Homo sapiens: one gene and its partner. The protein of the gene in region 2 purifies or fractionates together with the protein of the main gene of each other region. This does not show direct contact. Each region holds a gene or a part of one and is shown on either strand. Other genes may lie near its edges. The genes, in order: NAXD and ZNF311.

Region 1 (3,812 bases), on a different chromosome or scaffold from region 2:
CTCTTGCTGAAGCCTCCCCAGGCTCCGTGGGAGTGGCCAGTTGAGACTCGCCACACTCAGTGCCTGAGATTCCACTACCAGCATCAGCTTCGGGGCTTTCTGCACTTTCCAGTCATTTTGATAAAAGAGAATGAAATGCAATAAAATACCCAAATAACTGCATGGATGGTGGATGCCACAGGTGAGATGAAGGTGGCAGCTGGAGACGCGGGACCCTGCACTGTGCCCTGCTGTTGCAGGCACCCTCCCGCCAGACTGCTTCTCATAACTGAGGCAAGGGAATTCAACCAACGGGTAAGGCCCACGGCTCGAAAGCCTGCCCTCACCACTGTCACCTCCCCTGGCAAAACAGTGAAAAGTCAAAACATGGACTCTGAAGAAAGTGTGGTTGACGAGCTCATCAGGAATCCCTGTGTGAATGTGTGTGAACACGGGTGTGCACGGGAGAGGTCTTCCAGGGCTCATGCTCGGTGTGGCCATGCTGACTGACCTGGCACTGGCCCATGCACAGAGGGCAGCCGCCACTCACCCTGCTGGCCGTTGGAGAGGATGTCGCGCTCTCCTTTCTGGACCACCGTCACGTTGCCCAGGGCTTGGCTGAGTCTTAGCACAGATCCATGGCTGTCATCGCTGTCCATAGGGCCTCTGAGCTATGACAACACAGGAAGACAGAGAAAAAGCAAAGTCTTCCTCAGACACACGACGACAGATAGCCCTGTCCCATCCGCCATGAGACTCATGCTCTCGTGTCTAAAGGGATCACCCAGGCACCTGTTAAAGGCCATGTAGGTGGGAGGATGCCCAGGATATCACCTGCAGTGAGTCCTCCGAGCAGGTGCTGACACGGTGCCTGCTCCAGTGCCCATCCTCTACCTCATCAGAGCAGGCTGAAGGAGGACCACCCAAGACTGGGTTCTGAGAGCTTTGCAGGAGTAATACAAATTCCAGTCGTACTGGGCACTAACATTGATGGGACACTTACCATGTGGGGACTCACGGCTTTACATAGGTTTCCTCATCTCATCCTCACAACCCCGTGAAGCTGATGCCATCATCACATTACAGATGAGGCACTCAGGACACAGACAAAGTGACCTGTCCAGAGTGCACTGCAGGAGGGGCTGACTGACCCGAGTCCCTGCCTGTCCCAAGCCCACTACACCATCGTTCATCCAATCCAAGCGCATTAATGGGAAGACGCGCCATCCGCTGGGAGAGGCACAGCGATTACTTGCAGGTGTGTCCACAGGGACAGGCTGGGCAGAAGCATGGAGCTCGTCCTTCACCCTCTTCAGGACGAACAGGGCTTGCATCTACCCTCCAGGGGGTCCACTGACTCACCACAGCGTCATACAGTCTGCTGAACTCCACGTGGTTGGGAGTGAGCACAGCCTTCCGGTAGCCATGGATGAGGGCCGGCTGCTGAGCGACCAGCCACAGGCCATCCTGCACAGAACAAGGAGCCGTGCTCACTGCACAGGCCTTCCGGGAGTCCGAGCCAGGAGGAGAGAAGTCAACTCACCGCGTCGATGACAACAGGGATGTCCCTGGCCTTTGACACTTCCAAAATGCCCTGCCAGAAGAGAAAACCAGACTGAGCACCATGCCTGCTGCTATGGTGTGGGTATGTGTCTTCTCAAAACTCATGGTGAAACTTAATTGCCAAGGGAAGGGTCCTGGGAGGTGGGGCCTTTAAAAGGTGATGTGGCAGTGTCCTCATGGGTTGGTTTAATGACCTTTAAAAGAGGCATAAGGGTCTCTCTCCTGCCCTTCTGCCCTCGCCAGATGCCGGCACCTTGATGTTGGACATCCACCTTCAGAACTGTGAGCCAGTAAACGCCTGTTCATTATCAATTACCCAGTCTGTGGTACGGCTACAGCAGCGCAAAACCGACTAAGACACTTTTCCCAAGAGTGACAGAAAATTGAGCAGACTCTTAATAAAATGCAACATCAGGCCATCAAACAATAAATGGAAAATAATCAAGTAAATGAATAAAATAGAGAAGCAGAAAGACCCAATGAACTCGCAGAGCCCGTAAACAAGGCAGGACACTGGGAACTCTGAAAGGCGAAGCCCACTGGAAACGCTATGAACAACAGCTGGGCTCCTAGGCTAACCCATGAAGACAGCCCCCGCCCCAGCAAGGGCATCCAGTTCTCCAACAGATACTAATACGCAGCATTCGGAGGCAGGAAATCTGAATTCCTGAGAATTCCCCAAATCATTAGTCATTATGTATTTTTCATATCACTTTACTTACACGTTTTAAAATAACAACAATAATAAACAGGGAATCATTTTTCCCTGATAGGATTACAGTGAAGGTTTCAAAGGTTTTCTATTAAAAAAAAAAAACTACATGTATAGATACACACACATATATGTAATATTTGGTGGTTTTTATTATTATGAGCCAATACATTGTGACAAGATTATACACTGCAGTAGCATGTAAAGTGATCCTGACTTGACAGACACCTGATAATACAAAACATTAAAATAGAAAACATTAAACAAAATGAGAGGTGACAGCATGCTGGCAGTCCTCAGAGCCCTCGCTTGCTCTCAGCACCTCCTCTGCCTGGGCTCCCACTTTGGCGGCATTTGAGGAGCCCTTCAGCCCACCACTGCACTGTGGGAGCCCCTTTCTGGGCTGGCCAAGGCTGGAGCCCACTCCCTCAGCTTGCAGGGAGGTGTGGAGGGAGAGGCGCGAGCGGGAACTGGGGCTGCCTGCAGCGCTTGCGGGCCAGCTGGAGTTCCGGGTGGGCGTGGGCTTGGCGGGCCCCGCACTCGGAGCAGCCGGCCAGCCCTGCTGGCCCGGGGCAATGAGGGACTTAGCACCCGGGCCAGCGGCTGCAGAGGGTGTACTGGGTCCTGCAGCAGTGCCAGCCCACCGGCACTGTGCTCAATTTCTCACCGGGCCTTAGCTGCCTTCCCGCCGGGCAGGGCTCGGGACCTGCAGCCCGCCATGCCTGAGCCTCCCACCCCCTCCATGGGCTCCTGTGCGGCCCGAGCCTCCCCGACGAGCACCACCCCCTGCTCCACGGCACCCAGTCCCATCGACCACCCAAGGGCTGAGGAATGCGAACGCACGGCGCAGGACTGGCAGGCAGCTCCACCTGCAGCCCTGGTGCGGGATCCACTGGGTGAAGCCAGCTGGGCTCCTGAGTCTGGTGGGGATGTGGAGAGTCTTTATATCTAGCTCAGGGATTGTAAACACACCAATCAGCACCCTGTGTCTAGCTCAGGGTTTGTGAGTGCACCAATCAGCACCCTGTGTTTAGCTCAGGGTTTGTGAATGCACCAATCGACACTCTGTATCTAGCTGCTCTGGTGGGGCCTTGGAGAACCTTTATGTCTAGGTCAGGGATTGTAAATACACCAATCGGCACTCTGTATCTAGCTCAAGGTTTGTAAATACACCAATCAGCACTCTGTGTCTAACTCAGGGTTTGTGAGTGCACCTATCGACACTCTGTATCTAGATGCTCTGGTGGGGCCTTGGAGAACCTGTGTGTCGAAACTCTGTATCTAACTAATCTGATGGGGACGTGGAGAACCTTTGTGTCTAGCTCAGGGATTGTAAACACACCAATCAGTGCCCTGACAAAACAGGCCACTCGGCTCTACCAATCAGCAGGATGTGGGCGGGGCCGGATAAGAGAATAAAAGCAGGCTGCCCGAGCCAGCATTGGTAACCCGCTCGGGTCCCCTTCCACGCTGTGGAAACTTTGTTCTTTCGCTCTTTGCAATAAATCTTGCTACTGCTCACTCTTTGGGTCCACACTGCTTTTATGAGCTGTAACAG
Region 2 (4,325 bases):
ATACTAAAAAGCTTACTTTTGAATGTGCCTACTCCTCTGTCCAAAAGTCTATGCCTTTCTGGGTTTGATTTTATGACTCCTGAATTGCTATATACTATCTCCTAGGTTGCACCTCCAACAGCAATTTTTTTTTTTTTTTTTTTAGACAGAGTCTCACTCTGTTGCCCAGGCTGGAGTGCAGTGGCATGATCTCAGCTCACTGCAACCTCCACCTCCTGGGTTCAAGCAATTCTTCTGCCTCAGCCTCCTGAGTAACTGGGGTTACAGGTGCATTACACCACACCTGGCTAATTTTTGTATTTTTAGTAGAGATGGGGTTTCACCATATTGGCCAGGCTGGTCATGAACTCCTGACCTCTAGTGATCCACCCACTTAGGCCTCCCAAAGTGCTAGGATTACAGGCATAAGTCACCGCACCCGGCCTACCATCAGCTTTTATACAAATCTTAACCACTTTTCCTCCTCACATACGCCACCAAAGAGCACAAGGCTTCAATGGGAAAACTTTTGCTTCTTCTTTTGTCACTGCTTTATTTTATATTTTGGAGATATCTATACATCATTTAAAAGTATCAGGGCTCCAGAAAGGTCTGCAGAAGTAAAATTGTATATATTCAAATTTTACATGTTGGCAAAATTATGTTTGGGTAGGAATTACTGAATTATACCACAAGTTTTATAAGTGTAAAATATGTGCAAATATGTACGCTATTTACCATATATCTCAGGTTATACAAACAGTAAATGCCTGACTGCATTGATTCTTTCTGATAAATTGCTTTGTAGAATCTTTTACACACTGATTTTTTTCAAAATTTAAGATACTGACAGAAACTGAATATTTAGTTCCTCTAGATATTGATCCAAGCCTCGTATAGAAACAAAATAAGACTTTCTATAAATGCTCATTAATGAACAGATTTTTGGGCCCCAGTGTGGCATTTTCCACCCACTCTGTGTCCTTACTACATTCTCAGCTGCCGTGACTCCTGCCACAATCTCCTGTGTATCTCACCGCTTTCCTGAGGGAGCTGGGTATCCTGGCGGGTCCAAAGCAGCTGGCTTGGTGGTCCTGAACTCTCATCCAACAGCACAACCTATTGCAAGACACAGAATGAATTCAGGAAAGTTATGAAGGTGAGAAAAATACATAGGAAGATGCAAGCAACCATACAGGTCTATCCACAGAAACTGTCTCCCAGAAATACCAAAAGAAGGGAGAAAATAATGGACTCAGTTCCTAATACCTTATGAAAACTAGAAATGGCATCTACAACTACAAAGCTTTAATGATCACCAGGTCAAGCAGCAAAAACAGTATCTAGGAGGAGACACCTCCAACAGTATCTAGAGTCAGACACACCTCCACTCACACTGCTTTCCTTCTTTCTTGGACTCACTTCTCCTTCTTCCTCCTTGTGATGTATCACAGACCCTCCTCTTCTTACCTCCTGCATCTTTTTACTCAGGTTTCTTTAACAGTCTTCCACTGCTGTCCTGGTTTCTTCCTACTGGTCAGATCCAGTTCTCAAACAAGCTGTGAAGTGGCTCCAGTTGATGCCAGCCTCCTTTGGAGAACACATGTTTTGGTGGTGCCAGCCAAAGGGCCCTTCTTGACCCACAGTGCCGCTACTGTTTGGCTTAATGTGTCAAACACTGCCCTGGATTTGGGGTTCATTAGCAACACTAAACCGCTGTGATCTCACATCTTGTTTCCCTGCATATTTGGTGAAGGGAAAAGAGGAATGTGACCACAGGAAAAAATAGGGAGTCACTGAGAACCTGAGGCACGAAGTCAAACTGAAAATGTGAACATATCCAGAATACAATCTCAACGGCTACCACCCTTGTCTGAGCCACCATCACCTGCTATCTCCCCTCCTTTCCATTACTGCGGTAGTCTTCTAACTGGTCTCCTTTCTTCAATCCTTGCCTTCCTCCTTTCTTTTTTTTTTTTTTTTTTTTTTTTTTTGAGACGGAGTCTCGCTCTGTGGCCCAGGCGGGAGTGCAGTGGCGCAATCTCGGCTCACTGCAAGCTCCACCTCCTTTCTTAATAGGGCAGTCTGAGTAGTCCGTTTACAACTTGAGTTGGATCATTTCATCGCTCTGCTGAAAACTCTCCAGTGGTTCATACTTAAAATAAAACCTGAAGTCCTTACCGAGGTATACAAGGCCCTACTGAATGTGCCCGTGACTTCTAACTTCCTCTCCTGCTCACCCAAAATAAGAGCTGAAGTCTTAAGAGTGGCATACAAGTCTACAGGATGTGTCATTCTCAACACCTTCTACTCTTCTCCCACTCCCTCAATCTTCAGCCATACCGACCTTCCTTCTCTTTCATCTTAGGGCCTTTCCATTGGCTGCTCCCTTCACCTTAAGCGATCTCCATGGCTAATAATCTTGCCTCCTTCAAGTGTTTTCTTATAGGTCATCTTCCCAAGGAGGTCTACTCTGAGTGCCTTATTTAAAATTGCAGCCTATCCCCTCCTTCCAATCCTGATGGGCCTTACCTTGCTTTACATGAATTCTTCTTTTCCTCTATAGCACTTTATAATTTTCCAGTATGGTGCATAAGTTACTTATTAATATATACATTGTTTACGGTGGTTCTACCTTCGCTAAAATCTAGGCTCTTAGGCTCCATGAGGGCAGGAATTTTTGTCGTCTTGTTCACAGTTGTATTCTCAACGCCTAAAACAGCGCTTGCAATAGTATGTGCTGGATTAAAAATTAGCTGACTGAATGAATATATGAATGGATGCTGTAGAGAAGAATAAAAAGAATGGGTCAGGAGGCGACAAGAGCAAGACTCCGGTCTCAAAAAAAAAAAAAAAAAATGGGTCACGAGCCCCTGGGAGGAGGTAGGGCAAATGGGCGGGAAATGCTCATTTTGGGGAATGGCTTCGAGGGAGGAAACCGCAGCCGACTCCCTCCTCAAATCTGGCCCCAAAGACCCGCCCCTGCCTGCAACCCCAGGGGCCCGGGTATTTAGGTGAGGGGGGCGACGGCGGCACCGGACTCCTCTCCTCTCAGCTGCAAATTCCGACCCACGACGGCCCAAGGCACAGACCTTCCCGCCGGTACTCTCCCCAAGAAATGAGAAACAGAAATATACAGAAGCTCCACTTCCTAGTCCGCCAATTATCATTTCCGGTGATTTTCTAGGAAAGGCGTCAACTCTCTGGTCTAGGCGTTCCCTTAAACTCTCCGCCCTCCTCCTCGCGGCTCAGCCTTCTAGGAGTTTGCGTGCGTTTATGGCCTGTGCAAAGGGGTTGCAGAAATATTACCCTTTTGCTCCTTTTTTCCCATGTAGAGGAACCTCTAGATAGGAATGGACAGAAGTTTTGTGACAAATATATGAAAAAGTTACTTTTAAATATTAACTAAGAACACAAATAATTGAATGTCTTTTTCAAAAGTAAAGACTATTTTAAGCCTATGCAGAAGTCGAAAGAAGAGTATAATTAACCCATATATACCCATCATTTACATTTAAAAATACATAAAATTCTGCCACACTTGTTTCATCCATCTCCATTTTTTCTTGCTGAAACGTTTTAAAGCAAACCCCAAATATCTTACTTTCAACTTCATTATGCATTTATTTTAAAAAGGATATTTTCCTACAGAATCACAATACCATTATCCCATTTAACAAAATAATTCCTGGTTATCATCTAATACCAAGTCCATATTATATTTCCCTAAATATATACATATGCTTCTTACATTTGTTTTCTATTTCATTCAAGATCTAAAGTTCCAGTATTTAATTTGGGCATGTGTCTTAATTCTTTTAAAATTCACATCTGAACTAGTTCCTCCTTCCATCCTCCTCTTCGTCTTCCCCTCATATAGTCAACTAATTGAACAAATTGGGACATTTGTCCTGAATGTTCTACATGCTGGCTTTGTCTATTTGTGTCCCCATTTTATTAGTTTCTCTAGCCTCATATTTCCTGTAAAACTTGATGTTACCTCTAAAGGTTTGATTAGAGTTAGGTTTAACTTTGTTAGTAAGAATCCTTAGGTGGTGCTATGTACTTTTTGCCACACATCAGGAAGCATATAATGTTTTTGATGCTAAGATTGACCAGTGGGTTTAATACTTGATAGCTGAATCCTTCCATGTAAACTTTCCCACTGGCTTTTAATCTGATAGATTCAGCCACCCCATTTCATTAGAGTTTGTAAAATTGTAATTTTTCTAATTCAATAATTTTTTCACATTTATTAGTTAGAACTCCTCTATAAAGAAAAACTTTCCTTCATCAATTTAGCAATTTAGGGCTATTTGGTTATCCTGAAATGTAGTTTGTACAGG

The links.
Region 1: the proteins of ZNF311 (region 2) and NAXD purify together in Homo sapiens (affinity purification with mass spectrometry; one large-scale study listed by BioGRID and IntAct). This does not show direct contact.

What each region holds. Positions count from the first base shown.
Region 1 is NC_000013.11:110,632,306-110,636,117, reverse strand, and holds part of NAXD (ATP-dependent (S)-NAD(P)H-hydrate dehydratase), read right to left. Parts: intron 1,574-3,812; coding exon 1,523-1,573; intron 1,447-1,522; coding exon 1,342-1,446; intron 651-1,341; coding exon 530-650; intron 1-529. UniProt on the Homo sapiens protein: Catalyzes the dehydration of the S-form of NAD(P)HX at the expense of ATP, which is converted to ADP.
Region 2 is NC_000006.12:29,002,497-29,006,821, forward strand, and holds the start of ZNF311 (zinc finger protein 311), read right to left. Parts: upstream 2,820-4,325; 5' UTR 2,512-2,819; exon of another isoform or gene 2,044-2,511; intron 1,939-2,043; exon of another isoform or gene 1,719-1,938; 5' UTR 1,459-1,718; coding exon 1,450-1,458; coding exon of another isoform or gene 1,375-1,449; exon of another isoform or gene 1,365-1,374; intron 1,099-1,364; coding exon 1,017-1,098; intron 1-1,016. UniProt on the Homo sapiens protein: May be involved in transcriptional regulation.